Homo sapiens: one gene and its partner. The protein of the gene in region 1 purifies or fractionates together with the protein of each later gene. This does not show direct contact. Each region holds a gene or a part of one and is shown on either strand. Other genes may lie near its edges.

What was found. Proteins that work in one complex are often made in the same cells at the same time.
Region 2: the proteins of PPP3R1 (region 1) and CNN3 purify together in Homo sapiens (co-immunoprecipitation; one large-scale study listed by IntAct). This does not show direct contact.

The regions. Positions count from the first base shown.
Region 1 is NC_000002.12:68,246,033-68,249,532, forward strand, and holds part of PPP3R1 (calcineurin subunit B type 1), read right to left. Parts: intron 1-3,500. UniProt on the Homo sapiens protein: Regulatory subunit of calcineurin, a calcium-dependent, calmodulin stimulated protein phosphatase. Confers calcium sensitivity.
Region 2 is NC_000001.11:94,920,611-94,924,110, reverse strand, and holds part of CNN3 (calponin-3), read left to right. Parts: exon of another isoform or gene 1-1,243; intron 1,244-1,889; exon of another isoform or gene 1,890-3,500. UniProt on the Homo sapiens protein: Thin filament-associated protein that is implicated in the regulation and modulation of smooth muscle contraction. It is capable of binding to actin, calmodulin and tropomyosin. The interaction of calponin with actin inhibits the actomyosin Mg-ATPase activity.

The sequences.
Region 1 (3,500 bases):
CTTTTTACCCTTTTTACTGACTTTTTCTTTCTTTCTTTTTTTTTTTTTTTTTTTTTTTTTGAGACAGAGTCTTGCTCTGTCGTCCAAGCTGGAGTGCACTGGTACAATCTCAGCTCCCTGCAACCTCCGCCTCCCGGGTTCAAGTGATTCTCCTGCCTCAGCCTCCTAAGTAGCTGGCATTACAGGCACGCGTCACCAAACCCGGCTAATTTTTGTATTTTTAGTAGAGACAGGGTTTCACCATATTGGTCGGGCTGGTCTCTAACTCCCGACCTCATGATCCGCCCGCCTCAGCCTCCCAAAGTGCTGGGATTACAGGAGTGAGCCACCGTGCCCGGCTCTGACTTTTTCTTTCAACCCCAAGATAAATCCTTCCTCAAAACTAAATTCTCTAGCTTTCACCCTCTCTGCTACTCAAAGCTTTAAAAAGCAATCTAAATTCAATGTCTCACTACCTCCTGGCTTCCCTTGCCACCATTACAACAAACTACTATTGACCAAGTCATCAAAACTCTCCTGTTATCTCCAAAAGACATCTTTAAGTTCTCTTTCTTGATCTCTGCAGTATCTATTCACTGCTGACTCCTTCCTCTTTAAGACTCCCTTCAATCTGGCATCATGCTATGCTGCTCATTTCCCAACTATCTCTCTGGCTATTCAATGACAAACTTCACAGGCTCCTCATCCTCTACCTGCCTTTTTACATGCACCATCTTTAGAGTTCACTCTCTTCACGTCTCATTTTATATTCTCTCTACACAGGATTTCATCCAGTTTCACGGCTTCAACTACTACCTAATATAAATGCACAGACAATGCTCAAATCTTTAATGCAAGCCCCAGATGTCTCTTATGAGCTCCAGATATAGGTAGCCAATTACCTGTTGGCCATAATCACCTAGATAACCCAAGATTACTATTCCCTGCCCACCTCCCGCCCCCCAAAACAGTCTTGCTCTGTCACCCAGGCTGGAGTGCAGTCACACAATCTTGGCTCACCACAACCTCCACCTCCCAAGCTCAAGCCATCCTCCCACCTCTGCCTCCTGAGTAGCTGGCACTACAGGCGTGTGCCACTGTGCCCGCCTAATTTTTGTATTTTTGTACAGATGGGCTTTCACCATGTTGCCCAGGCTGGTCTGGAACTCTTGAGCCCAAGATCCATCTGCCTCGGCCTCCCAAAGTGCTTGGATTGTAGGGATGAGCCACTGTGCCTAGCCCACCCATGATTCCTTTAAATTCAGCATGTGCAAAAATAAAAATTCTCATCACTCCCCCAAAACCTTCTTCTCCTACATCTCCTAGGAGAATGTGCATTTCTAACAAGGTCCCAAATGATACTGATGCTGCTAGTCCAGGATCCACTTCTTGAGAATCACTGTTCAAACACATGTGCCTCTTTCTACCTCCAGGCTATCAAGTTCTTTCTGTTTCTCCTAGGCCATGACATGTATGTAGCAGGCACTGTTAATATTTCACAGCACTCTATCCTATTGAAATTGGAGTCTTGCAACATAGCATCCCAAGCACTAATTACCAAATAATAGAAGCCTAGAGATGAAACAATAGTCATCCCAGCAAACTGGAAGTTTCTCGAGGACAGGAACAGTATTCCCCATGTATTCCTAAAACCTAACCTTAACCAAGTAGGTGCTCAACAAATATTTGCTGGGTGGATAGCATTATCCAAAGCCAGAAACCAAAGCAGAATTCACCACCTCTTTTCTTCCCCATAATCCAATAGTTACCAAGTTCTTTCTTCTACCGCCTAAATGTATCTCCTGTAGGATCCCTACTATCTATCTGCATTGTTACTGTATTCTTTCACATCCTTCTGTCTCATATAAATTACTATAATTATTTCTGAATCCTCATGTCTAGATTCATCTATCCTATTATCCACCCGGCCATCAGAATGGTCTCTTTAAAAAAGTAAATGAGACAATGTCATTCTCCTGCTTGAAAATAACTTCCCACTGCTTTTAGGAGAAAAAAGATTAACTCCTTCATGATATGCAAATCCCTCTATGATCTAGTGTCAATCCACCAGACACTACCCCCTTCCTCTCCAGCCACGCTAAACTAACACTGTAGTTCTCTGGATGGCTTGTATATCTCATGCTTCCATGACTTCGAACAGAAGCTCTCTATGTGGTGTGCCCTTCCTCACTGGCTAAATACTCATCCTTTCAAGACTCAGTTCAGACACCATTTCTTCCAGGAAACTTTAAGTGACATTCATCCCCAGTGTGGATTAAGCCTCTTCCCTGCCATGTGCTCTTACAGCATCCCATGTTTAGTCTGTTAATAGCACATAGCACACTGCATAATCACTGTCTTATTTACCCTACTTGATTAATTTCCTTGTAGATAACAATTATGTCTTAAGTACATATAGTTAGTGCTAGGTACATTAAGAGACGCTTGACTCAACTTTACACATTCCTTCCTATTCTCTAAACAGTGGTTCTCAAAGTTCAGCCTATATCACAATTACCTGGAAGACCTATAAAACTTAAGACTGCTTGGCTCATCTCCAGAATTTTGGATTCAGTTGTTCCAGGGTGGGGCCTGACAAGTTTCCAGATGATGCTGTTGCTGTTGGTTCGGGAACCATCAGTGCTCCAAATGTACATTGTCTCTTCCTCCCTTTAGGATTTAAAGTGCCTTCTTCTAGATGCCTCCAACTCTGCCTACTGCAACGCTGATCTTTTTAGACCCAGCTAGCTCAATTACCACCTCCTTCATAAAACTTTTCCTAATCCCAGGTGAAAATGATCTTGCTCCTTCTTAAATTTCTATCATGCTTTGTGTGTACTATTCATATGACACTCATCACATGCTAACTTACTTCACGGTTACTGCCATTTGTCTTACATTCTCTACTTAAATGAAGGTAGGAAACCTGCCTTAATCATTGCAATATCCTCCACAACAGAGAGCACAACAACCAGTAAACGGCAGACAAAATCTACAAGTATTTGTTGATAGGAATGAATCCCTGTTGCTTGCCCCAGACTCCAGGCCCACTGTCTGACTTAATATCCTCCTGGCCCAAGGTGACTTCCTTATACTGCCTTACTACCTATAACAGTTGCCTGATCCTTCCATACTTGTCTGTCCCTCTCATTGCTGACTGACCCTTAGTCAGCTTCTTTACTTTATACCTTGAACCATTTTAATTTTCTCATTCACTATGGGACAAAATGAGTGGATAAATTTTCTCAGGACAGATGTGAATTTTAATTCCGCTGGTCATAAGACAGGTTTTTTTTTTTCTAAAAAGTGGCCTTTGCCACAGAATCTGAACTAGAATATGTTGTGTAAAACTCTACATACAGTTATAGACGGCAATAAATTTGTTTTAAGTTCTAGATGCAGATCATGGAGATAAAAAAAAATTTAAAAGTTTAAAAGCACAAAGACATGAAAAGGCCTTTATAAAATTTAAAGTTCCCTTAAGAAACAAAACGTAAAACAATTACCTTTATATTATGTTC
Region 2 (3,500 bases), on another chromosome or scaffold:
TTATTGCATAATTGATACATTGCTTGAATGCTAGATTCCCCCCATCTACCCCCACATCTCATTTAACAAAGAAGTATAGAAACATCCTGGGGAGACAGTGTGGAGTGGACCTGGGAGTCTAGCATATGTGAGTTCTAGTCCCCGTTCTGCCACTTCCTGCCTTCTGTGATGCTGGGCTAGCTACTTGACATCTCTCTCCTAGCTTCTGTTCTGTAGAATGGGGGAAAACAATAGTTGCCACCCCCAGACACCATGTTGTGGAGATGTGTCTGGCTTATACTCAACTCAGTGACTGTATTGTAGCTATTAGCTCTTAGTAACAGAAAATTAGTTTTTAGTATTATATTTCTAAGATTTGTATGTCCCTGCCTCTTTAAGTATTTGGTTTGTATTAATACCTTTTGGTCTTGTTATATAATATTCTAGCTGTAAAAGCATTTCATCAATGAATTGAGGAAGTCTCTGATTTTAAATACTTTAATCAGTAAAATTTCAGAGAAAAATCTTTAAGACATTTGATTGGTAAGATGATAATACATGGCAGAACACACAAGCTTACTTTTTTTAATAGGCAAGAAGATGTGTGAAAACAGCCTTAAAAAAAAAAAGCCTAAGAATTCCAGTCTTTCAGCCTGGAATATGAACAAAGTTTCTTTAATAACAAAGAAAAAAATGACACCAAATGATCAATAACTTAGAGTTTACAAAAACTATCAGAGAGTAAAAGGGCCAGGGAAAATGCAGACACTGGTAGGGATGGTTCGGTGGAGGATGGAAACACTCATAAAATAATGGGCCCTACAGGTATTCTACAGGTTGAACCAGGCCCTTGAATGCATCTTGGGAACCAAAATGAAAAGTGAAACAACTCTGTGCCTCGTAAACCATGAAAAAACATAACAGGTACTCAAGGGAAGCACAGTATTTCCTGGCAAAATGTTGGAGTTGGGGGTAGTTTCCCGTAAAGTTGGATGGGAAGAGAGGACGCAGTGAAGCATGTCTTCATCAGGTTTAGAGCAAATGCCGCAGGAACCTTTCTTACAGGTCTCAGGGAAAGTGGAAAAAATAAATTGACAAATGGGGAGCTGAAATAATCTTACCTCGGTATGTTTTTTTGGGAGGAAGCTAACTGGAATATTAAGAAGCATGGAATTGGAATGCACATTCTTCCAGTCTTCTGCCCCCTTGGAATGTCTGATTTGAGCAAAGCAGCTTCCCACGGGATCTTCTTGATTACAAAATGGTATTTCTCAACACCTAAAAACCTTCTTGAAAGGCTTATTACCAAAATCTTTGGTTGTTGAAGTTAAACAATCATACAGTAATAATTAGATAGGACCAGTGTCCGCGAAGTCCTCCTAGCTTGTTTGCCGGGTGCGCTTTAGACGCACAGCTGCTCTGAGGGTACTTCTGATCAGAGTAACCCAGGGTGACCCAGCTATAAATTACACTCGAGGGTGGTTTGCCTTGTCTTGCTGGTAGAGCACCAGAATCTTGGTAAAAATGTGTTGGTGGGCTTAGCTTTTTTCTTTTTAAACTTGGAAGTTCAGAAATTGGTTTTTAATTAAAATCTTTTTTTGTTTGCTTATTATCTGTCTCTTCCCACCAGAGATAAAGCTCTCTTATTCGCGGGTGTGTCTCAAGATCGATATTTTACAATATAGTTTAGCACATAGCATATGCTCAATAAATATTTGAATATTTGTTGATTTAATGAATTTATTCATCGGGAATAGATTTTGCTATCTCTAGACATAAGAAGTTAGAAATTAACTCTGTAGTCTAAATAAGATAATTCTGTAGTGCAAGTGTGATGATTTTGAAGGATGTGGTTAAAAAGAAAATATTCTAAAAAATATTTTATTTTTTGATCTCGCTATGTTGCCCAGGTTGGTCTTGAACTTCTGGCCTCAAGTGATCCTACTGCCTTGGCCTGTTAAAGCACTGGGATTACAGGTGTGAGCCACCATTCCTAGCCTTGTTTTTCTTAAGTAGTTAAATAGTTAATATTATGTTGAAATTTTTCATCTTTGCTGCTGATTTTGGGATTATTTCTTAAGATAGATATTTTGACTGGGCTCTTTCTTAGACTTCCAAGTTAGGAATGGTAGAGGTGTCCTCTGCAAGGATTTGTCCAGTGCCTGCATTTTCCTGAATACTGCTGGAGAAGGGGCCATTCAGCCAGGGACTTTGCTCCTGGTAGGAACCAGCTATTGCTGTTGGTCTGCTTTAGTTTTTGTTTTCCTGTCTTGACCAAAACAGATAAATAAGATACACTTTGCTGAAGTGACAAGAGATACCATGCTTCCTCTTTAAAATTCTCATCCTTATTTACTCTGGAGTTTTAACGAGGATTATCGTCAGGCTCACTGATTTTTTACAGTCTAACATTTGTGGAAATTGTTCTGTCTCTAGACAGTCCTTTAGATTTCAGAAACAATCTTGACAATGATGACATCGCTAATACCCACCATCAACAGAGGTATAGGCTTTTTTTTTCCCCAGTGCCTGTTTCCCTTCCAGGTTGGGACATGAGGGTTAGTGTTTCCTGCCTCCTTTCCCTCTTTAACAGTGTATCCTTAAAGTCATAATGAATCTGATCTGCGGCATAAAAAAAGTAAGCACAATTGGATCGTTTTGGTTTTTCACCCATCATTAGCATTGTATTCAGGAGAGTGAGGAAATGCATTTTCTTCTCTCTCTTTTTTATTTTTTTGAGATGGAGTCTCCCTCTGTTGCCCAGGCTGGAGTGAGGTCGTACGATCTCGGCTCACTGCAACCTCCACCTCCCAGGTTCAAGCAATTCTCCTGGCTTAGCCTCCCGAGTAGCTGGAATTACAGGCACCTGCCACCACATCTGACTAATTTTTGTATTCTTAGTAGAGTTGGAGTTTCACCATGTTGGCCAGGCTGGTCTCAAACGCCTGACCTCAAGTGATAACACCTGCCTTGGCCTCCCAAAGAGCTGGGATTACAGGTGTGAGCAACTGTGCCCAGCCCTGCATTTTCTTTCTCAGTGAAACTAGGTGGTGGTTGGAGAAAGCTTGTCCTTAGAATTTGTTGGCAAGTTCCATTTAAATCTAGGCATTACCCTCCTGTAGCATATACCATGTGCATTGGCTCTCCTTAACTCTGAACTTATTTTATAGCCCAAATGGGCTCTTAACTTATTTATGTGTACTTGTACCCTCAGATTTTTGTTAAGGATTCTTGGAACTCATAGGTAGATCCAGGTTGTTTGTGGGGACGAAGTTTATACAATTTGGGGGTCCTCATTATGAAAAATATATAAATATCTTTTAAGTTTTACAAAAACCTATGGCCATGTGAACCCTTTTGAACTTGAAGACTTCTCCATACCTGTCATACAAGGTTCTTGTCAGGGAAAGTAGAGCTTAGTGGTTAAGAACATGGACTGTGGGAACTGGGTTGGATTCCTGGTTCTGCATCTTACTGTGAACTTTGGCAAGTGACTTAACCTGCCTGTCTTGTATGTAAAA